Homo sapiens: one gene and its partners. The protein of the gene in region 1 interacts with the protein of each later gene in a pairwise test. Each region holds a gene or a part of one and is shown on either strand. Other genes may lie near its edges. The genes, in order: PKMYT1, CLDN8, SLC30A8 and STEAP3.

Region 1 (5,178 bases):
GAAAGACACTTGAGGGATTCCGGGTTTTCACTTTGGAATTGGAGATAAGGGATCGTGGGCCCGTGTAGTCTCGGAAGAGGTTGTGTAGTTTAGGATCAAAGAGCTGGCCGTGATGAGGGCAGGGATGCAGGCGCAGCCCGTCTGACTCCAAACTGCCTTGCTCTTAACCCGACTGCAAGACCCTCAAGAACACGGGCCCCATGGTTTTCCTCTTATGTTTCTATCATCTCTAAAATACAACAGCCTGGTGGGCAGGTGAGTATGAATCTGTCCTCTGCCTTTTCTTGGTAGGTGCTTATTGCTCCCATTGCCGTTTAAAGTAGAATAAGTGTGTGGTATAGACATAGCTCTCTTCTGTGGCCTCTTTGGAGCCACAGGGCCAGGTGGTATCAGAGTGGACATGCTGCCCTGTACTCAGCCTCTGTCTCTGCCCCCAGGGCCTCCTGCACTGGCCATGCCCATGCCCACGGAGGGCACCCCGCCACCTCTGAGTGGCACCCCCATCCCAGTCCCAGCCTACTTCCGCCACGCAGAACCTGGATTCTCCCTCAAGAGGCCCAGGGGGCTCAGCCGGAGCCTCCCACCTCCGCCCCCTGCCAAGGGCAGCATTCCCATCAGCCGCCTCTTCCCTCCTCGGACCCCAGGCTGGCACCAGCTGCAGCCCCGGCGGGTGTCATTCCGGGGCGAGGCCTCAGAGACTCTGCAGAGCCCTGGGTATGACCCAAGCCGGCCAGAGTCCTTCTTCCAGCAGAGCTTCCAGAGGCTCAGCCGCCTGGGCCATGGCTCCTACGGAGAGGTCTTCAAGGTGAGTGAGGGGACGGCTTCTAGGCCCATCTGGGGGACCTCCTTTGTGTTTCTGCACCTCCCTTGGCAGGACAGTGTCCTGGGCAGCCTGATCCCCTTCCGTTCCCTACAGCCTGTCCCTGCTGGGCTCACAGGCTCCCTCCACATTTGACTTGGCTGCTCCCATCATCCCCAATGCAGGCCCCTCCAGGGGTTGCTCTGTGCATACTGGCCCCTTGTCCAGAGTCTGGCACGCCCTGCAGCAGCCCCTGTGCCATCTCCTCCGGCCCTGGCGCCAGCTGTGCAGCGTCCTTGGCGAGTCGGCCCAGCCTCTGGCACTGGCCCTGAGTGCAGTGCCTGGCCAGCCCTCCCCAGGCTGGCAGGCTTTGAGCTACCCCCTGCCTGCCATCTTGCTTTTCTTAAACACAGTTTCCAGTCATTTATATTTTCTTTTAGAGAGGAGTTTTCCCTTGTATGAGTCCTGTATGAAGACAATTTTGTTAAAAAGTACAAACAACATTGGCCCCCAGGTCAGCTTTCTCACAGGGGAGCCCACTTTTCACACCACAGCCTGGGCTGCCTGTGTTGCTCTGCAGCTGCTTTTTCCACCTCGTGACACATCCAAGAGGTCCCCTGGGGTCAGTGCAGGTCGGCCCTGGCTCCTCCGTCGCTGGGTCTCCACAGACCCAGCCCGAGGGATGGAGGTTTGTCTGGTTTTGTTATTACCCTGGGCAGGGGTCTGAGACAGATGCCAGCTACACCACCGTGCCCCGTGTGTGAACCCTTAATGGGGTCTGCCAGGTTGTCCCCCTATGTGATTGTGCCACTTGTGGCTCACCCTCACTGTGTGCGTGGGTACCACCTCCCTTCCAGGTGCGCTCCAAGGAGGACGGCCGGCTCTATGCGGTAAAGCGTTCCATGTCACCATTCCGGGGCCCCAAGGACCGGGCCCGCAAGTTGGCCGAGGTGGGCAGCCACGAGAAGGTGGGGCAGCACCCATGCTGCGTGCGGCTGGAGCAGGCCTGGGAGGAGGGCGGCATCCTGTACCTGCAGACGGAGCTGTGCGGGCCCAGCCTGCAGCAACACTGTGAGGCCTGGGGTGCCAGCCTGCCTGAGGCCCAGGTCTGGGGCTACCTGCGGGACACGCTGCTTGCCCTGGCCCATCTGCACAGCCAGGGCCTGGTGCACCTTGATGTCAAGCCTGCCAACATCTTCCTGGGGCCCCGGGGCCGCTGCAAGCTGGGTGACTTCGGACTGCTGGTGGAGCTGGGTACAGCAGGAGCTGGTGAGGTCCAGGAGGGAGACCCCCGCTACATGGCCCCCGAGCTGCTGCAGGGCTCCTATGGGACAGCAGCGGATGTGTTCAGGTGGGGACCGGGGCACGCCAGGTGTTTGGCAGGCTGTGGGAGGCCCTTCCTGGGACGGAAGCTCCATTCCCCAGGAGGGAAGCTCCACCCTAGCCCAGGACACCCGGCCTCAGAGCCACAAGGCTGAGACGCCATCCCTGCCCTCCAGTGGAGAGCGTCTCTGGTCAGGCTGCCTGTGAGCCTCGAACCCTCCAGAGCCACTTTGTGTAACCTGCCTCCTCACAGCTCCACAGGAGAAACAATTGTCACTCCATTTACAGCCAGATTAAGGGCCTTGCCGGAGCCCACTGCTAGCAAGTGGCATAGCTGAGACTGGCCCTAGGTGCTGGGTTCCAGGGTCCACACTGGTAACCACTGCCCTGATCATCAGGATAGTAATACCTGCCAGCAGTAACTGTGGTGCCTGTCCATCAGGGCACTGGGAGGACTCACCACTGTGGCTTGTGGGCTCCCTGGGCACAGAGCCCATATTCCATGATGTCCCCATCCTGCCCAGGGTTCATGATCAGGCCTGTTGGGGTGTCCCTTCCCCCTGCTTCCGCCCCTCCCTGACTGATGAAGACAGCAGCCCTCTCCCACCCACCTCCAAGAGGCAGCCCTGGACTGGGTCTGTGTCCCAGGGCCAACCCTGCCCCTTTCTGTCCCCATCCCGTCCCTGCCAGTCTGGGCCTCACCATCCTGGAAGTGGCATGCAACATGGAGCTGCCCCACGGTGGGGAGGGCTGGCAGCAGCTGCGCCAGGGCTACCTGCCCCCTGAGTTCACTGCCGGTGAGTAGGTGAGGGCGGGAGGGGGTGCTGCCACGGGCTCCTGGGGAGATAGTGGCTGGCCATGGAGGCACTGCTGGGCTCAGGGTGCAGTCGGTGTTCTGGGACCCCGATGTGGCCCTTCCTCATGGGCAGGTCTGTCTTCCGAGCTGCGTTCTGTCCTTGTCATGATGCTGGAGCCAGACCCCAAGCTGCGGGCCACGGCCGAGGCCCTGCTGGCACTGCCTGTGTTGAGGCAGCCGCGGGCCTGGGGTGTGCTGTGGTGCATGGCAGCGGAGGCCCTGAGCCGAGGGTGGGCCCTGTGGCAGGTAAGCTCCCGACAGTGGCGGCTGCCTGCCCTGCTCCCCAGCCCCGGGGGTCCGCCCACCCACATCCTGAGCTCCTCTCCCCCACAGGCCCTGCTTGCCCTGCTCTGCTGGCTCTGGCATGGGCTGGCTCACCCTGCCAGCTGGCTACAGCCCCTGGGCCCGCCAGCCACCCCGCCTGGCTCACCACCCTGCAGTTTGCTCCTGGACAGCAGCCTCTCCAGCAACTGGGATGACGACAGCCTAGGGTGGGTTCAAGTGCAGGGTATGGGGGGCTAGGGGGAAGGTGGGGGATATCACCGGGGCTCCATGGAGATTCGTGGTGAATGGGGACCACTCCCACAAACCTGGCCCCCATCACATCCTGGGGAAGGGGACCAAGACTGGGGGTGTGTGGCCTGGCCAGGCTTAATGCAGCTGGGCATGTGGACTGGCCGTTCAGGGCATGGCTTCACACTTAGGGCACCAGCACCCCAGGGAGTGGCTGGCCGCGCAGCCCCGACCCCAGTGGAGGCTGCCAGTGCCCAGGGATAAAACATTGTCCCTTCTCTGGGAAGAGAAAGCCTCTGGAGTCTGGGGAGCCCTGCCCTGGGAACAAGTCCTTGGTCCCTGGGGCCTGGTGTCTTGAGTGAGAGGCTGTAATTAGGAAACCACACGCTCAGGGCAGACAGCTCTTGGGGACTCTGCCGTTAGCCCCTTCCTTACAAACACATCACCTCATCCCTCGGGGCACTTGATAGCAGACAAGAAGTTCCAGAAAGGCTTACATTTACTAAAAGTTTATTTCAAATCTGCCTCCAAGTCCATGTGTTCTGAAAAGGACAGAGGGGGCCTTGGAGTGCAGCCAGATGGAAGGACTTTGAAGGCTGTCCAAGTGCTGCTTTCAGAGTGCACCAAGTTTTTATTGTCCCTGACTGTGGCTCCCTGCCTGTTTGTCAGGCGGGAGCCTGGAGCCTGCACAGGGACAGAGCTGGTTTCATCCGGCACTCCCTAGCCCTGGACACCCTCCTTGTCTCGCCTGCCCTCCTGCAGGCCTTCACTCTCCCCTGAGGCTGTCCTGGCCCGGACTGTGGGGAGCACCTCCACCCCCCGGAGCAGGTGCACACCCAGGTAAGCAGGTCCAGGGGCTGGGGTGGGCAGGGCTAGCTTTTGGATCCTGAGTGTCACTACTCTCTCCTCCCAGGGATGCCCTGGACCTAAGTGACATCAACTCAGAGCCTCCTCGGGGCTCCTTCCCCTCCTTTGAGCCTCGGAACCTCCTCAGCCTGTTTGAGGACACCCTAGACCCAACCTGAGCCCCAGACTCTGCCTCTGCACTTTTAACCTTTTATCCTGTGTCTCTCCCGTCGCCCTTGAAAGCTGGGGCCCCTCGGGAACTCCCATGGTCTTCTCTGCCTGGCCGTGTCTAATAAAAAGTATTTGAACCTTGGGAGCACCCAAGCTTGCTCATGTGGCAACATGGCCCTTCCTGTCCCTTTATTGATGTCATCCAGGGTCTTAACGCCCCTGAGGCTGAGCCCTGCTGCAGAACCCAGCGCTCCTGGCCTTGGGCCAGCAGCTGAAGCCCCATGCTGTGTGGAGCAAAGAGGTTTCCTGAGCAGGCACATCCCCCGGTGGGTACCTGGAGCTGTTGGGAGTATGGCACTCAAGGTGGAGGGCAGGCACGGCCCAGGGGTCCCAGGATCTGAGGCCGCTGAGCTCCCTGTGTCAGTTTCCTGGAAGAAGCAGCTGCAGCCCTTGTGCCTGTGGCCAGCTGGTACAAGACGGGTCCACGCCCCCTTGGTCCTTTTGTCCTGAATGCCTTACTCCATAGTCTCTGGGCAGAGGGAGCCAGGGCGGGCAAGCTTGTGGCTGCTGGGAGGGCTGGTATGCAGGGCAGAAAGATGGAGATCAGGAAGACTGGCCACAGGCCTGGTGGGAGGAACAGGATAGGGTGAGGAGGCTCTGGGCTGGCGGC
Region 2 (7,169 bases), on another chromosome or scaffold:
TGAAAAGCGAAAGAAAGGTAAAAACATGTCCATGACACTATTTCTATTATTGATTTTTTAATTCATGTTCACCATTCTTTTTTCATCTTGGAAAAATGAAATATTGATATGGGTGATATAATATGGGTGAAGTTCTTAAGCACCAGTAGACCCTTCAGAATTATGCAAATTTTATTGCTTGAATTTGTTAGTAGCTAGATGTTACAGACCGGATATTTGTGTACCCACTAAATTCATATGTTGAAATGTTAACCCCCAATGTGATGGGATTTGGAAGTGAGGTCTTTGAGAGTGAAACTTTGAGAGTTGTAGAGGAGGTCATGAAAGTGAAATCTTCATGACGGTATTAGTGTCTTTATAAGAAGAGAATGAGACTGGAGCTCACACTTTCTCCCTGCTATGTGAAGTCATCTCATAAAGACAGCTTTCTATAAACTGAGAAGTGGGTCCTCACCGGAACCCAGTGACACTGGCACCCTGATCTGGGACTTCAGAAGAATGAGAAATAAATTTCCATTGTTCAAGCCACTTGGTCTGTGGTATTTTGTTAAAGCAGCTTGAATTGGCTAAGATACTAGGCAATTTCTATGCAGTAAGGAGTTCATTTTTAAGCAGAGCAACTGAAAATAGATCACACAGAGGTGGTGAAAAGAGCGGTTGGGCATGGTGACTCACACCTGTAATCCCAACACTTTGGGAGGCTGAGGTGGGCAGATCACTTTAGGTCAGGGGTTCGAGACCAGCCTGGCCAACATGGTGAAACCACGCCTCTACTAAAAATACAAAAATTAACCAGCTGTGGTGGTGTGCACCTGTAATCCCAGCTACTCGGGAGGCTGAGGCAGGACAGTCGCCTGAACCTGGAAGGCAGAGGTTTCAGTGAGCTGAGATCAAGCCACTGGACTCTAGCCTGGATGACAGAGTGAGACTCCATCTCAAAAAAAAAAAAAAAAAGAAAAAGAAAAAAGAGAGACATGGTAAAAAGAGAGGGCTGCTAATGGATAGAGAACTGGAAGCATAGCTGGCCATCATGAAAAACAAACAAGATGATGGTTCAAGAGAACATACAGCAATGCACAACAGTATTTTCGGAACAACACAGAGACCTATTGATATGTTCACTTATTCTCTCAGGACAAGATGGTTGGCCAAGTATGGTTAATTAACAGTGGAACATAGTTAAAAATAAACACCCTTGAAAAACTGTCATCACAACAGAAAACTACAAAGCAAATCCAGAAAACAAAAGAAATTGACCTTTGCTTGATAGGCAGAAGCAAAAATTATTTCAAACAGTGATAAGAATTAATAGAAATCCAAGACTGTGGAGTTGAATTAGGTTAAGGATTAATGGGCATAAGACAATCTGATAGTGATTTGTATGTTATCATTTAGGAAGAAAAAGCATTTGCCTGTGTTATGCTATTATCAGGGCTGAATGCAGTTTAGCAAATTTAATTGCTAAACTTAAATCATGCCTTATGATGATGTTGACAGACAGAAAAGCCCGAGGGAGGGTGGAGAGGGGGTTGACATGAGCTCTCATTTCTCTCCTGGGTTCTTGGTAGTACTGTGGTTCTTCATGGAAATGGAAGTACAAACTATTGAATAATCGATGTATTTTGCTCTGTAGTTCTAAATTAGAGTAAAAATGTTATCAATCTGTTATATCTCTATTACTGCTATCTGAATTTTGTAGCCAAGTTAATCAATTCAGCAGGACAGAAAAGTAGATAACAGTTTCCTTTTATCTTTGAATTTAGGCCCCTTTTGTCTTTAGCAAACTCAATATTACCATTTTTTTCTGTCTTTTTATTCCAGTGTCTTTTAGGACATGGTTATTTATAAATACTATGGAGTTAACTGTATCATTGTCTGATAAGGAACCTATTTGGAAACCCTGGGCCACTTCCTAGTAGGGAATTAACTGTACAATAATTCTAATGTGAACCTAGTGTTAATTTCCCACTCAGATCCTCATCTTTTGGCTAGAACAATTTCAATAGTAAAGTACCTAATATTTTTGAAATAAGGAAAATATTTTTATGTAAAATAAGTTCCTGGTAAAATTCAAGCCTCAAGGGAAGAGAGGTTTGGTAATACACAAAGCCAAGAAATATGAATGCGTACCTGGGAAGCAGCTCCCACAACGGCTGAGGCACTCAGAGGCAGAGCTTTCTGCTTCTGTCTCATGCGTTCCTGTGTTGATGTGGATAGTCAGCAATATTTAAACAGAGCTCCTAAGAAACATGCCACACGGGAATTCGAAAAGAAATTTCAATGAAGCAATATATGCCTTGACATCCCTTAAAATGTAGCTTCACGTAGTCATTATCTCAACCAGTTATATTATTTCTTTTTCATTTTTCAGTTCTGTCAATCACTCCTTTTTCCCAGTTTGACAATTAAAGATGAAAAATATCTTCTGTTTATATGTCATTTTTCCTTTTGTGGATTGCACAAAAGGAAAATCTTTAAGCTTTACTTCATTTTCTTTTCTTCTTCACATCATAAAAATGATCCTTTCTTTGAAATTTTACTTTCTCTCTGCTTCATCGGGCTACCTTAAATCCAAATATGGGAGAAAATGTTTTCTGCTCACTTCTTAAACTTTGAAAGTTTAAAATCTCAACTTTTAAAATCTTATTTTCCCAAGATTAATCTAAGTCTCCCTCCACCACAAATCTGTAACTGATAGAAACTTGATGAAGAAAATGTCATATATTTTCTTTTCTTTTTTTTTTTTTTTTTTGAGACAGAGTCTTGCTCTGTCACCCAGGCTGGAGTGCAGTGGCGCGATCTCGGCTCACTGCAAGATCTGCCTCCTGGGTTCATGCCATTCTCCTGCCTCAGCCTCCCGAGTAGCTGGGACTGCAGGCGCCCGCCACCATGCCAGGCTAATTTTTTGTATTTTTAGTAGAGACGGGGTTTCACCGTGTTAGCCAGGATGGTCTCGATCTCTTGACCTCTTGATCTGCCCGTCTCGGCCTCCCAAAGTGCTGGGATTACAGGCGTGAGCCACCGCCCCGGCCAAATGCTGCATATTTTCTGCATCAGCCTAAGGGACACCCTGAAGTTTGGCACCTCACAGGTCAACAAATGAGAATATTTCTGTAAATATTAAGTTTTAACTTTTTATAAGGTTTATAACGTCTGTTTAACAAAATTATAACAACTCATACTACTGTGCGTCTGTCCTGCCTCTTTTTTAGAAGACAGTCTACTTGATCCTCCTTTTGCCCTTTCTACCATATAGTTTTTGTTTTAATAATATCCACAAATGACTCAGATTTTTTGAACCATGAAACTCTCAAAGTTTAATCAGTGAGCAGAAACGATTTTCTCCCATATTTGGATTTAAGGTAGTCCAATGAAACAGAGAGAAAGTAAAACTGTAAAGAGAAAATCATTTTTTATGATGTTAAGAAGAAAAGAAAATGAAGTGGCAGCTTAAACTTTGGAAAGATCAGACAGAGAGCTTAAGGTGATCTCCAGAAGAAAATTGCTAGTCGAATTTTCTCAGATAAACATTTATGCTTAGTATAGCACTACTGTTAGAGCATCATTATTTTGAGAAGAAAGTTCAAATTGTCTTGCGTTTAGGGGTTTCTATGTCCTACTGCAGACATAATATTAAAAGGTAGGAAAACATATTTGGTTAATACCTAATATAATACAGTTTGGTAAATATAGTTCCCTTGTCTTGTAAATATCTTATTTTGAAATATCAGCCATTTGTATAGGCCCAAGGGTCTTGTGTCATCTTCAGAATTCTAGTTCCTTCAGCCCAGGAATTCAAAGCAGCAAGAATAACACCACAAAATAAGCTCATAAGCTTATTTTAATGCTATAGTGCTGGATACATAAGATAATCATCTGGTGATTTTTATTTTGGCAAAAAATGTTTTTATAAGTGAAGATTATCAGAAAAGTGTCAATGAGTATTTTTTCTGGCTTAAAGAACTCCAATATGTTTTCAGTGCCAAGGAGAAGGACAGCCTTGTGTATTTAATTACTTTAGCTTATTTTGTCCTCTGGCATGATCTGTTCCCTGATTTCACCACAGTAGAGCTTGCTTTGAAGTTGTAGAAAAATTAAATCAATCACTTGGATCACATGTGTCCCAAAGAATGTGGCTTCCCAGGTAAAAGCAATCTTTCAATCCCCTACTCTCGTTTCACTTTGGCATTTCAACAGCGTTGCAGAATTCTTCGGCAGATAATTTATTTTATCCCTTGGTCCCAGCAGCTCTTATTAAGAGTTTCAGAATTGCCTGTACAAGGTGCACCTTTCACATTACAAGGGATCGGCTCATTTCTTGATGCTTATGCAACCACTTATAACTATGCCTACAGGTAAACATACTGCTGTCTTCTTGGAAGACCGAGAAGTATAAAGAATGTTTATGTGCAGGTCTAGCTGTTCCAAGTACCCAAGTGTTGGTTTAGACACACCTGGATTACCATCCACCTTTTATTGGCTGAGAAAGTTGCCACACCTGATTTGTAAGTTTACCTGTTGCAGCCAATAGCAGGGCCATCTCAGCCAGCCAGCACTGGATACTATCTGGCCAGAAGTAGCAAAGCAGCTCTTATTTGAAAAACCACTGGGTTCCGAGTTCATTACTACAGGAAAAACTGTTCTCTTCTGTGGCACAGAGAACCCTGCTTCAAAGCAGAAGTAGCAGTTCCGGAGTCCAGCTGGCTAAAACTCATCCCAGAGGATAATGGCAACCCATGCCTTAGAAATCGCTGGGCTGTTTCTTGGTGGTGTTGGAATGGTGGGCACAGTGGCTGTCACTGTCATGCCTCAGTGGAGAGTGTCGGCCTTCATTGAAAACAACATCGTGGTTTTTGAAAACTTCTGGGAAGGACTGTGGATGAATTGCGTGAGGCAGGCTAACATCAGGATGCAGTGCAAAATCTATGATTCCCTGCTGGCTCTTTCTCCGGACCTACAGGCAGCCAGAGGACTGATGTGTGCTGCTTCCGTGATGTCCTTCTTGGCTTTCATGATGGCCATCCTTGGCATGAAATGCACCAGGTGCACGGGGGACAATGAGAAGGTGAAGGCTCACATTCTGCTGACGGCTGGAATCATCTTCATCATCACGGGCATGGTGGTGCTCATCCCTGTGAGCTGGGTTGCCAATGCCATCATCAGAGATTTCTATAACTCAATAGTGAATGTTGCCCAAAAACGTGAGCTTGGAGAAGCTCTCTACTTAGGATGGACCACGGCACTGGTGCTGATTGTTGGAGGAGCTCTGTTCTGCTGCGTTTTTTGTTGCAACGAAAAGAGCAGTAGCTACAGATACTCGATACCTTCCCATCGCACAACCCAAAAAAGTTATCACACCGGAAAGAAGTCACCGAGCGTCTACTCCAGAAGTCAGTATGTGTAGTTGTGTATGTTTTTTTAACTTTACTATAAAGCCATGCAAATGACAAAAATCTATATTACTTTCTCAAAATGGACCCCAAAGAAACTTTGATTTACTGTTCTTAACTGCCTAATCTTAATTACAGGAACTGTGCATCAGCTATTTATGATTCTATAAGCTATTTCAGCAGAATGAGATATTAAACCCAATGCTTTGATTGTTCTAGAAAGTATAGTAATTTGTTTTCTAAGGTGGTTCAAGCATCTACTCTTTTTATCATTTACTTCAAAATGACATTGCTAAAGACTGCATTATTTTACTACTGTAATTTCTCCACGACATAGCATTATGTACATAGATGAGTGTAACATTTATATCTCACATAGAGACATGCTTATATGGTTTTATTTAAAATGAAATGCCAGTCCATTACACTGAATAAATAGAACTCAACTATTGCTTTTCAGGGAAATCATGGATAGGGTTGAAGAAGGTTACTATTAATTGTTTAAAAACAGCTTAGGGATTAATGTCCTCCATTTATAATGAAGATTAAAATGAAGGCTTTAATCAGCATTGTAAAGGAAATTGAATGGCTTTCTGATATGCTGTTTTTTAGCCTAGGAGTTAGAAATCCTAACTTCTTTATCCTCTTCTCCCAGAGGCTTTTTTTTTCTTGTGTATTAAATTAACATTTTTAAAAAGCAGATATTTTGTCAAGGGGCTTTGCATTCAAACTGCTTTTCCAGGGCTATACTCAGAAGAAAGATAAAAGTGTGATCTAAGAAAAAGTGATGGTTTTAGGAAAGTGAAAATATTTTTGTTTTTGTATTTGAAGAAGAATGATGCATTTTGACAAGAAATCATATATGTATGGATATATTTTAATAAGTATTTGAGTACAGACTTTGAGGTTTCATCAATATAAATAAAAGAGCAGAAAAATATGTCTTGGTTTTCATTTGCTTACCAAAAAAACAACAACAAAAAAAGTTGTCCTTTGAGAACTTCACCTGCTCCTATGTGGGTACCTGAGTCAAAATTGTCATTTTTGTTCTGTGAAAAATAAATTTCCTTCTTGTACCATTTCTGTTTAGTTTTACTAAAATCTGTAAATACTGTATTTTTCTGTTTATTCCAAATTTGATGAAACTGACAATCCAATTTGAAAGTTTGTGTCGACGTCTGTCTAGCTTAAATGAATGTGTTCTATTTGCTTTATACATTTATATTAATAAATTGTACATTTTTCTAATTATTTGACATTCTTTCACAAGTCTCCTTTTGTTTCTGTTTTATTAACTTGTAGAAGAATGTTGAAAAGCCTGATAATTTTTTATTCTCCAAATTGAGAAAGAATGTCAAGATTTGCCTTGTAAAGACAAACAGTGCATTAATTTTTGAAAATATAAAGTACTCTATGTTATTTATGTTATTTAACAACAATATACCTTATAATCATTGGATCCCTATACCAATATTCAATGCAGATAATATATTTATAATTTAAGATAGTACTATAAATTCAAGCAAATCTATATGTTATAAATATTATGTATATAACAGCCAGGTTTGAAAAATTTTCTGTAGCTAAATATATATTTCTACTTCTGAGAAATAATAAATAATATTGTCTAATGTTCTGGGGGCATGTATTACATGCTAGGACCTCTACTGCTTATATGAATTGTTATTAAATCTTTTATGAGACTGATAATGTTATTAGTTCAATTCAAAGATGAGGCTATCTCAGAACAATTCATTGATTACTCAATAGAATCAGGAG
Region 3 (4,259 bases), on another chromosome or scaffold:
GCATCTTGAGAACACATAGGTAAATTTGAACTCAGGAAAGTCTTACTAGAAATCAGTGGAAGGGACAAATAGTCACAAAATTTTACCAAAACATTAGAAACAAAAAATAAGGAGAGCCAAGTCAGGAATAAAAGTGACTCTGTATGCTAACGCCACATTAGAACTTGGTTCTCTCACCAAGCTGTAATGTGATTTTTTTTTCTACTCTGAATTGGAAATATGTATGAATATACAGAGAAGTGCTTACAACTAATTTTTATTTACTTGTCACATTTTGGCAATAAATCCCTCTTATTTCTAAATTCTAACTTGTTTATTTCAAAACTTTATATAATCACTGTTCAAAAGGAAATATTTTCACCTACCAGAGTGCTTAAACACTGGCACCAGCCAAAGAATGTGGTTGTAGAGACCCAGAAGTCTTCAAGAACAGCCGACAAAAACATTCGAGTTGACCCCACCAAGTTGTTGCCACAGATAATTTAGATATTTACCTGCAAGAAGGAATAAAGCAGATGCAACCAATTCATTCAGTCCACGAGCATGATGTGAGCACTGCTTTGTGCTAGACATTGGGCTTAGCATTGAAACTATAAAGAGGAATCAGACGCAGCAAGTGCTTCTGTGTTCTGGTAGCAACTCAACACTATCTGTGGAGAGTAAACTGAAGATGTGCAGGCCAACATTCTGGAAATCCTATGTCAATGGGTTTGGTTTGGAACCTGGACTTCTGCATTTTTAAAAGTTACCCAGAGATGCTTCTAAAGATGAGCCATAGTCTAGAAGATTGTCAACCACAGGAGTTCATTGAGTGGGACAGCTAGACACATACATTGGCAGCTACAATAGTATCATGAATTGCAATGATGTAGTGGGGTATAAAAGGAAAGCGATGGATATTGCCGGATGGGCATGGCCAGTGATGTTTCACGTCATTGAGGTGACAGCTCTGCTGGACTTTGAATTACATATGGAGGCTCTCCAGGAAGACGAAGAAGAGAAGGACATTCTAGGCAAAAAGAAGACTAGGCACAAGGCACACTTATGTTTGTCTGTTAGCTTTTAGTTGAAAAAGCAAAATACATGATGCAAAGAAACCTCTCCACGCTGTGATTTTTAAAACTACATACTTTTTGCAACTTTATGGTTATGAGTATTGTAGAGAACAGGAGATAGGTCTTAGATGATTTTTATGTTGTTGTCAGACTCTAGCAAGGTACTAGAAACCTAGCAGGCATTAATAATTGTTGAGGCAATGACTCTGAGGCTATATCTGGGCCTTGTCATTATTTATCATTTATATTTGTATTTTTTTCTGAAATTTGAGGGCCAAGAAAACATTGACTTTGACTGAGGAGGTCACATCTGTGCCATCTCTGCAAATCAATCAGCACCACTGAAATAACTACTTAGCATTCTGCTGAGCTTTCCCTGCTCAGTAGAGACAAATATACTCATCCCCCACCTCAGTGAGCTTGTTTAGGCAACCAGGATTAGAGCTGCTCAGGTTCCCAACGTCTCCTGCCACATCGGGTTCTCAAAATGGAAAGAATGGTTTATGCCAAATCACTTTTCCTGTCTGAAGGACCACTGAATGGTTTTGTTTTTCCATATTTTGCATAGGACGCCCTAAAGACTAGGTGACTTGGCAAACACACAAGTGTTAGTATAATTCTTTGCTTCTGCTTCTTTTTGAAAATCATGTTTAGATTTGATTTTAAGTCAGAAATTCACTGAATGTCAGGTAATCATTATGGAGGGAGATTTGTGTGTCAACCAAAGTAATTGTCCCATGGCCCCAGGGTATTTCTGTTGTTTCCCTGAAATTCTGCTTTTTTAGTCAGCTAGATTGAAAACTCTGAACAGTAGATGTTTATATGGCAAAATGCAAGACAATCTACAAGGGAGATTTTAAGGATTTTGAGATGAAAAAACAGATGCTACTCAGGGGCTTTATGAACCATCCATCAATTCTGAAGTTCTGACTCTCCCATTACCCTTTCCCTGGTGTGGTCAGAACTCCAGGTCACTGGAAGTTAGTGGAATCATGTAGTTGAATTCTTTACTTCAAGACATTGTATTCTCTCCAGCTATCAAAACATTAATGATCTTTTATGTCTTTTTTTTGTTATTGTTATACTTTAAGTTCTGGGGTACATGTGCGGAACATGTAGGTTTGTTACATAGGTATACATGTGCCATGGTGGTTTGCTGCACTCATCAACCTGTCATCTACATTCTTTTATGTCTGTCTTTCAAAGCAACACTCTGTTCTTCTGAGTAGTGAAATCAGGTCAACTTTACCACCAGCCTCCATTTTTAATATGCTTCACCATCATCCAGCACCTACTTAAGATTTATCTAGGGCTCTGTGGTGATGTTAGGACCCATAAAAGAAATTTATGCCTTCCATATGTTTGGTTACAGATGGGAAATGGGAATGTTGAAGGACATGAAAGAAAGGATGTTTACACATTAAGCATCAGTTCTGAAGCTAGATTGTCTGAGTTTGAATCTTAGCTCTTCCCTTTATTAGCTCTGTGACCTCGAGCTAGTTACTTAAATGCTCTGATCCTCTATTTCCTGATCAGTGAAACCTCCCTATTCAAATGTGTGAGAGTTTAATAAATTAGGACACTTAAAAATGTTGGAGCAGTGCATAGCATGTAGTGTTCAGTACATGTTAAATGTTGTTTTTTATTATGTACAAACATGAGTGGGCACAGAATTTTAAATCATCTCAACTTTTGAGAAATTTTGAGTTATCAACACCGTTCCCACAAGACAGTGGCAAAATTATTGGTGAGAATTAAACAGCTGTTTCTCAGAGGAAGCAATGGAGGCTTGCTGGGATAAAGGCATTTACTGAGAGGCTGTTACCTAGTGAGAGTGATGAATTAATTAAAATAGTCGAATCCCTTTCTGACTGTCTCTGAAAGCTTCCGCTTTTATCTTTGAAGAGCAGAATTGTCACTCCAAGGACATTTATTAATAAAAAGAACAACTGTCCAGTGCAATGAAGGCAAAGTCATAGGTCTCCCAAGTCTTACCCCATTCCTGTGAAATATCAAGTTCTTGGCTTTTCTCTGTCATGTAGCCTCAACTTTCTCTGACCGGGTGCATTTCTTTCTCTGGTTTCTAAATTGCCAGTGGCAAATTTGGATCACTTACTTAATATCTGTTAAATTTTGTGACCCAACAAAGTCTTTTAGCACTGTGGTGTCAAAAAGAAAAACACCTCCCAGGCATATACATTTTATAGATTCCTGGAGAATGTTGCTCTCCAGCTCCATCCCCACCCAATGAAATATGATCCAGAGAGTCTTGCAAAGAGACAAGCCTCATTTTCCACAATTAGCTCTAAAGTGCCTCCAGGAAATGATTTTCTCAGCTCATCTCTCTGTATTCCCTGTTTTGGATCACAGGGCAATCTGTTTAAATGACTAATTACAGAAATCATTAAAGGCACCAAGCAAATGTCATCTCTGAATACACACATCCCAAGCTTTACAAATCCTGCCTGGCTTGACAGTGATGAGGCCACTTAACAGTCCAGCGCAGGCGGATGTTAAAAAAAATAAAAAGGTGACCATCTGCGGTTTAGTTTTTTAACTTTCTGATTTCACACTTAACGTCTGTCATTCTGTTACTGGGCACCTGTTTAAATTCTATTTTAAAATGTTAATGTGTGTTGTTTAAAATAAAATCAAGAAAGAGAGAGTTTGGGTTAAGTCATCATCTTTTTATCACCAAAATCATGGCAGGACATGTTTTTCATGACACCAGTGAGGACTGTAATGAGAATACACTCTTTCACTCTCAGTCATTTATTGGAAGAGATATAACTCATTTGGGGAACATACTTGTCTAAGAGAGATGGAAGATAATGTGTTAGAATCAGGGGTGCTTTTGAAATCATTCTGGTCATGGGCATAAAACCCCAGTGGAGGAAGAAGATGGTGGTCAGAGGTGGTAGGAGCCCTTGACGGTTGTAAAAAAGGAACTTGTGCTTCTTCAACCATAAAGCCAGGAAGTGATGAGAGATGTCAAGCTGAATTGCACCCCTTTCAGAAGTGTCAATCAAGTCCTGGAGACAATGTATCATTATAATTGCCCTATATTTCCTTTCTTCAAAGGGGTACCCATTTGTTAAAAACACGATTATCCTATTTACAGCCATTAAAACCCTATGGTTGTTATACACAGTCCAATAGTACTATCAAACATTATTTCCCTGAATCTGTAGAGTTTAGGAGTGT
Region 4 (7,039 bases), on another chromosome or scaffold:
ACAGGAGCTCATTTGTACCTGGAGACTCTTAGGAGGTCGATAATGTTATTCTCCCAACCATGTGACTTTCCAACTCCATATGGACCCCAACCTCTTTTTTTCCACCCCTAACCTGAGACTCCTAGCCACTAACTAACTGCCACATTCTCCTGTCCAAATTCTGCCTCATCGGTTATTCATTCAACAAACACTTACCGAGCACTAACTTTGAGCCAGGCACTCTAAGACCAGCTGAGTCCCACTTCTGGCAGGATGAGTGTTGTTGTCATCAACCACCCCACAAACACCCGTGCCCTCTGCGTACTTGCGAATCTGAGTGAGGAGACACGGTGGCAGTAAGGCTCAGGACCTATAGCTCATGTGAGTGAGCAAGGATGCAAAACCAAAGACACCCGCTCCCCTCACCCACTGAGCTGGAGGGATCAACCACTGTGCCTGCCATCAGGGCTGATGGGCGACTGCTTGTGGATCACAAACTCTTGCGTTGTCACTTCAACCCAGGGGCAGAGTGTGTTCCTCTTCAGGTGTGGCCTGGTCTCGTGAGCCCTGCACTGAATGGGCCAGGCGTTCATTGCTTCAGCACCGTAAGAACACTGTCACCGGAGAATTGTTCGATACTCAACTCTTCCCAGTCAGTCTGTCTTCTGCATGCCCACAGTTACCGGGCAGCGTGGGCAACAAGTGAGCACTGATTGTTCCGCAATCAGGCTGTGACTTACTCCATCTCTGCCTTCTGCTTAATGAGAGCCAGGTGGGAGTTCAGCAAAGATCACATGTTTAAGCCTTGTTATTAAACACGTTAAAAAAATACTGCCCCAAGATTATAAAGCCGACTTCGGTACATATAAAGAGATTTGGGGTCGGTGAATGGGCCCACTAAGCTTTATTTTGTGGTGTCAGCTGTCTTGGTTCATGTGTAGACAGCAGGGCTCCCAAAGCCAGCATGCTGGGGTCTGTGAGGGAACAAGCTTCCCATTTCTTGTATTTATTTATTTATTTATTTATTTATTTATTTTTTGGAGACAGAATCTCGCTCTGTCACCTAGGTTGGAGTGCAGTGGTGCCATCTTGGCTCACTGCAACCTCTGCCTCCCGATTTCAAGCAATTCTCCTGCTTCAGCCTCCTGAGCAGCTGGGATTACAGGTGTGCTCCACCACACCCAGCTAATTTTTGTATTATTAGTAGAGATGGGGTTTTGCCATGTTGGCCAGGCTGGTTTTGAACTCCTGACCTCAGGTGATCCACCTGCCTCGGCCTCCCAAAGTGCTGGGATTACAGGTGTGAGTCACCACAGCCGGCTGCTTCCCATTTCTATAAGCATCCGACTGGTGGGGTGGCCAGTAGGCTGTGGGGAGTGGTGCGTGATTTTCCTGGTGGGCTTGAGAGAGTAACAGTATACCCCCAGTCAGGGCAAGTGTCTCTCTGAAGGTGAACTCTGGGTGCACAGCTAGAGGATACAGTGGCTGTGAGCTGGGCCCTCCAGGTGAGGTCTGGCCTGCCCATTGCCACAGTGGGCTTGCTGGCATCCAGGGGGGCTTTCTGGGTGACTGCCCAGGCCTGCACATGAGTCAGTAGCACGCTGAATGCAGTGGAGTTTGAGGGGACCCACCACTGTCCATCAAATCGCCCCAACCTGGGTGAAAGGCCAGAGCAGCTGCGGGAAGTGACACCAGGCCCTCTGGAGATGACCCTCTGGCCCTTGGAGATGTCTCTGGACTGGCCAGAAAGAAGGTGGTGCCTGGAACTGGAAGGGAAGGAAGCAAGACAGTGCTGGGCCCAGCAGCCAGAAATCAGGGTGATGGGTGGGTGGAGGGGCAGGCATCTGGGAAAGCCCTGCCCTCCTGGTGTTCCCAGATCTGAAGGCTGGAGGCTGGAAACCTTGTGTCACCTGTGCTGGTGTGAGTTCCATTGGGGCTGCCGCTTACCCTCCCATGACCTTTAACATCTGGCATGGCTTGTGGGGGGTGCTGAGAGGAGGAGAAGTCTCAAGGCTGAGGGAGCTCAGGGTAGAGCCAAGGTCTCAGTGAGAACCCCAGGGGGCAGCTGTCACAGCTGACCTGGAGCCCTCCAGGAACGCGTACTCTCCAGCTCCTGTACTCTCAAAAGCAACAGAAAGGTTTGCTTTCCTCAGGTGCGGTTTCCTCACAGTGCAGCTTCTCCAAAGAGATCTGGAGACCCCCCAGCAGCTTTGACAGGAAAATAGAGTCCTATCCACCCCACACCAACACACTGAAGTAGAGACTCTGGGCCTGGGGCTGCCCAGAAACCCACCCACTTAAACTGCCCGGGCGATTCTGGTGTTCACAAATATTTGAAAGCACTGCCTGACACCTGCTGGCTCAACAGGTGTCCACCTAGGCTGGAGTACAGTGGTGCCATCTCGGCTCACTGCAACCTCTGCCTCCCAATTTCAAGCAATTCTCGTGCCTCAGCCTCCCGAGCAGCTGGGATTACAGGTGTGCTCCACCACACCCAGCTAATTTTTGTATTATTAGTTCACCTAAGCAGAGAGCGATGTGAGGGGCTGTGAGGATGTGCAGGGGTGGAGGGCACTTAGGTCCCTCCCTCAGCTGACCATAGAGCACCCAGAGTGGCAGAGGGGCCACGTGCAGTGAGTGGCCACAGCAGAGCAAGGAAAGGTGCACACAAGAACAGTCCTAAGGAAGACATGTGTTTAGGGGTTTCATATTCACTGTTTAATCATCAGGACAGAGAGGGAAAGCAACCTACCCAACGTCACACAGCTAGCACATGGCTGGACCGGAATTCACACACATCTCTGTCCAGCTAGGTCCCCCAACTAACACAGCTGCCTGTCTGAATTCAAAGCCGGGAGAGATTGTCAGGGGTGGGCGTTGGGGGAGATGGCAGGTGCCTTAAGTGCCCAAGGCCTTGGGCTGGATCTTTAAGGAAGGGGGATTGGGATGGGCCAGGAGGTTGTCAAGATTGGAGATGGAAAGAATGCCATTGGCTGTGGTGGGGGGTGGAGTGGGCAGGGACTGGAAGGAGGGGTAGTGGAAGTCAGTCCCTGCCTACAGGCCTGTGTTAGACTCCGCGGAGATTCAGGAATCTAGCCCTGCCCACAGGGGCTTTCACTCCAGTAGAAGAGAGGAGACCCAGGGGGCCACAGCAGTCAGAGAACAATGAGGCCTTGGCTTGGTGTTTGGTGATGATAGGGGAAACCTGCCCAGAACCTGTTTATCAGATGCTCAGGGATCTGAAAAACAGGTTCTGCATGTGGGCTTGAGATAAAGATGCCCGGGATACTTAGATGTGCCCTATTCCAAGATCGCTAGGTTCCAAACAAGTTGAAAACAATAGAATACACTTATCCCTAAGAATGGGCTTGCACATAATTCACTTCAACAATGCAAAAGCTTCCAAACCTCCAGCCTCCTTTGGGCTGCCGGTGTGGCCTCCAAGGTCCACTGAAAAGCCATCCCCAGCCAGCAGAAACATGCCTGTGTCTTCTTCAGCCCCCGTCCATGCTTTGCCCTGGAGACAAGTGCTGTCATCTGTTTGTGGGTCTGTCTGTCTGTCTGTCTGTCCGTCTTTCTCCCCACTGTGAGCACTGACAAGCAAGTAAAGATGACAATGAAGCCTTTGTGGGCACCAAATGCTGACAGCATTATCACTAAGCCAGTGGCAGCCATGGTGACTGCAATAAATTTCCCCCACAGAAATTGATAAATTGCCACTTTCTGCAGCCATTATGTTTGCCTTTGTATCCCGAAGAGTAAACGCCTCTCTCCCTTTCTCTCTCTCGCTCACGTGTGTGTGCGCGCGTTAGATGACATTTATTCATTTTATGCATCCTGGGTTCTACTGGTCGTCCCACCTCAGTTCCTGTAGCAAAGAGACTTGAGTCTGAGCCACTAATTATCACCCGTGAGGTTTCCTCCCCGAGCAGGAAGCAGCAGGCCAGAGCTGCGCTCTCTCAGTGCACTCTCCAACCAAGCATCAGTCACCACTCCCGGTCCAGCCCCTGTGGCCAAGAGCTGGCGTGCAGGCTGCGGGAGGCAGCTGGCTGTGCAAGACCCTGGCAGGGCCCTCGCCTCCTGAGAAACCGAGAGTCAGAACCAAAGCCAGGCTGTCCTGGTTGGAGACTGAGCCAGAAAGGGTGGCTCACCTCACGGTGAGGCTGTCGAGTGACCTGAGAGCCTCAGACCCTCACGTCAGCCGGATGTCGCACCAGCCTGCTGTTGGTAAGTCTGGCTAGGACGCAGATCCAAGGGGGCATGGGTCGTGTGCAAACCCCTCCCACCAGCTCCCTCACCACCTGACCCCTGCCCTGCTGGAGGGTGCCCCTTGAATCTCCAGGAGGTCCGAGGAACTCGACACCTCCCAGAGATCTGTACTGCCTTGGAACAGGCTGCAAAAAGTGCAGTATGAAATGGGAAATATGTATCAGCTGCACGTTTTCATGGCCCCCTTTGGAGGAAAGGGAGTCCAGGTTATTAAGTCAGGAGGCTTTTAAATTTCAGGGGTTCAAGGATTTATCACACACAGTTGCGTGTGTGTGTGTGTGTGTGTGTGTGTGTGTGTGTGTGTGTGTTTAAGGATGTTAATGTTTATGATGCATTTCTGTGGAATGCAGGCCCATTGGGAATTGTAAATTTTTCTTATTGGTAACCATTTCTGCATTGGTTTAGCACGGAACTGCTGCTGCAAGTAAATGAACCAGATTTTTCTGGAATGATTCGAAAATCTAGCTGTTTGTAAAAAGCTCTCTAAATTATTCATTCACTTTTATTTTGCACAGTTGTGTGACGGTAAACTCTTTTCCATCAGACGAAACTTGCGCGCACGTGTATTTCTGCGGGGATTGGCTCGAGTGTGCTTGAGTTTTCTGTATTCTCTTTTGTAGGAACTTCTCAGCCTTCCTTTTAAAAAGATAATAATTTTTTAATGATGTCTAAATAATGATTCCAGGCAGTATTACAAGAAATATAACAGTAAAACGTTTGTAAGAGTCCATCAGAAAGGGAAAATGCCCACAGAGAAAAATAGAAATCTACCAATTAGATGTGTGTGGCTATAAGTGAGCTTTTAAACCATGATTTGAGACTGGCATCCTCTGGCCTCTCTGCCCTCAGGTCAGCTGTGGGAGGCTAGGGGTGGGATAGCAAAAGGGACCTGGGATCAGGTGGGGCTTCCTGGACCCCAGGCCCAGTAAGAATGAAGCCTAGGGGTTCTAGGATAGGGGGCAGCCCTGGATTTGCAGAAACAGCCTGAGAATGAGGGGCTGGAAAGTATGAGTTGGAGCAGCTCAGTGAGGAGACAGAAAACTGAAGCAGAAGAAAGCAGAAGACACCAGAGTCTGGTGCTGACTGGGTGACTGGCTGTTACTCACATCCTGAGCAATGAGCCACAGACCCTCCCCACCCCAGAGGCAGCTTGAATGCAGGGACTGGATGGGCCCAGGGCACAGTGGATCCGGGGCAGGCAAGAGCCAACTCGGGGCCCAGAGGAGGACCTTTAACCTGACTGGGCCTCAGTTTTCTCTTCTGCAAAGTAGAAGGAATTATAGCCTTCTGCAGGTCAAACCCTGTGCCCACATCCACAGGCACGATCCCCGACTTCGCCTCGCTGGCACTTCTCTGCATTTGACTCCTGGTTATTGCAGCTGTGCCCATGCCAGGCATTTGTTAGGTGCTGGGATGTGCCTGCCCCGCTCCTCTCTGTTGGGGAAGACGGAATTCATGCTGTAGGGGAGGCCCGGAGTTTCTACATGGGGCAGTCACAGGGTGGGGGACTTCCCTGAAAACTTCTTATTTGCATAAAATGTGCGCTGCTTTTGACTTATATTGTAAATTTCAGATCCATAAAATGGGAAAGACTTTGCAGAAGCTGTTATTCACTTTACCTGACTGGGAGATGTAGATTGTTCATATCCAAGGGTGTTAGTTTTAATACTAACATTAGCATGTGGGGAAGGGTGATCGAGATGGTGGGGAGTAGGGCCCCCCACCACCTACCCCTGGGACCTCTAAGGGAAAGTACACACCACCGTATGCTAGTTGCATCCTGTTACCTGTGCTGCAGAGCCAAGGGGCCAGAGGCAGGGAAATTAATTCTGCCTTGTAAAGGCACTGGGCCTTCCTGTTGAATTTTGCTACTTGCGGGGAAGGCACTTCCCAGGCAAAAAGATTAAGCCTATAACCTAAGCAGAAAGCAAGCAAGAGCTTTGGGTGGGAAGTGGCCAGAGACATAGATCAGGCAGACCCAGGTTTGGAAGGGCCAAGGAGACAGCACATCTGCCAATGGCAGCAGCTGGGCCTCACCTGCCCTGACACCCCCACCTAATGGGGACTGGGCAGAACCCTCCAAATGGTTGCCATGCCCTGGCCCAGGAGCCTCCAAAAACCCTGAAGCCATTGACTCAGCATCCCTGAAGCCTCCTTCCATGAGTACCCCCATACCAGGCTGCACCTCAATGCACCTTAGATCTGGTGTTTGATTTTCACTTTGACCAGATCTGCAGCAGTCTCTTTGTTAATATTTATTTCCAGTGTTTACATTCATCTTTGCATAAGTCCTCAGTGTTACTAAGTTTATCAAATAGCGAAATGCTTGGCCAGGTCTAACAATGTCACCAAGCTGCAGAAGGGATTAGAAACTCATAGTATTATTATTTCATCACCACTGAGTACAAGAGAGCCCCAGCTAGGTTCTGGGGAGAACAGCTATGACTCACAAATACTCCCCTCCCAACTCACAAATACTCCCCTTAGAATCTAGTCCTTAAATCATTCAAACCACAAAAATGTATTGAGCACTTACTGTGTGCTAGGCCCCGGTAGGTGTTAGAGGCACAGAAATGAGTTTTTTATTGGCCCCCATCCAATGAGGTGACAGACAAGAGAACCAGTGTGTGCAGCCAATGTTAATGTGACAAAAAGTGCAGAGTTAGTCCCAGAGCGTGAAGTCCTCCCTGTCCTAGGCCCAGGTGGAGGCCAGGAGCTGCTCCCCGGGCTGCCTGGACCAGACTTTTGAGCTCTTGGGACCCTGGCGAACATCAAAGCTGTTGCAAAAGTC

The links.
Region 2: the proteins of PKMYT1 (region 1) and CLDN8 interact in binary tests that used the Homo sapiens proteins (3 or more experiments, as listed by UniProt).
Region 3: the proteins of PKMYT1 (region 1) and SLC30A8 interact in binary tests that used the Homo sapiens proteins (3 or more experiments, as listed by UniProt).
Region 4: the proteins of PKMYT1 (region 1) and STEAP3 interact in a two-hybrid assay, tested with the Homo sapiens proteins (one study listed by BioGRID).

What each region holds. Positions count from the first base shown.
Region 1 is NC_000016.10:2,972,291-2,977,468, reverse strand, and holds the end of PKMYT1 (membrane-associated tyrosine- and threonine-specific cdc2-inhibitory kinase), read left to right. Parts: exon of another isoform or gene 1-400; coding exon of another isoform or gene 401-437; coding exon 438-805; intron 806-1,656; coding exon 1,657-2,150; intron 2,151-2,812; coding exon 2,813-2,919; intron 2,920-3,051; coding exon 3,052-3,224; intron 3,225-3,311; coding exon 3,312-3,469; intron 3,470-3,984; exon of another isoform or gene 3,985-4,215; coding exon of another isoform or gene 4,216-4,253; coding exon 4,254-4,331; exon of another isoform or gene 4,332-4,404; coding exon 4,405-4,516; 3' UTR 4,517-4,661; downstream 4,662-5,178. UniProt on the Homo sapiens protein: Acts as a negative regulator of entry into mitosis (G2 to M transition) by phosphorylation of the CDK1 kinase specifically when CDK1 is complexed to cyclins. Mediates phosphorylation of CDK1 predominantly on 'Thr-14'. Also involved in Golgi fragmentation.
Region 2 is NC_000021.9:30,213,483-30,220,651, reverse strand, and holds CLDN8 (claudin-8), read left to right. Parts: upstream 1-4,554; 5' UTR 4,555-4,726; coding exon 4,727-5,404; 3' UTR 5,405-6,646; downstream 6,647-7,169.
Region 3 is NC_000008.11:117,172,995-117,177,253, forward strand, and holds the end of SLC30A8 (proton-coupled zinc antiporter SLC30A8), read left to right. Parts: 3' UTR 1-3,720; downstream 3,721-4,259. UniProt on the Homo sapiens protein: Proton-coupled zinc ion antiporter mediating the entry of zinc into the lumen of pancreatic beta cell secretory granules, thereby regulating insulin secretion.
Region 4 is NC_000002.12:119,226,829-119,233,867, forward strand, and holds part of STEAP3 (metalloreductase STEAP3), read left to right. Parts: intron 1-3,791; 5' UTR 3,792-4,184; coding exon 4,185-4,206; intron 4,207-7,039.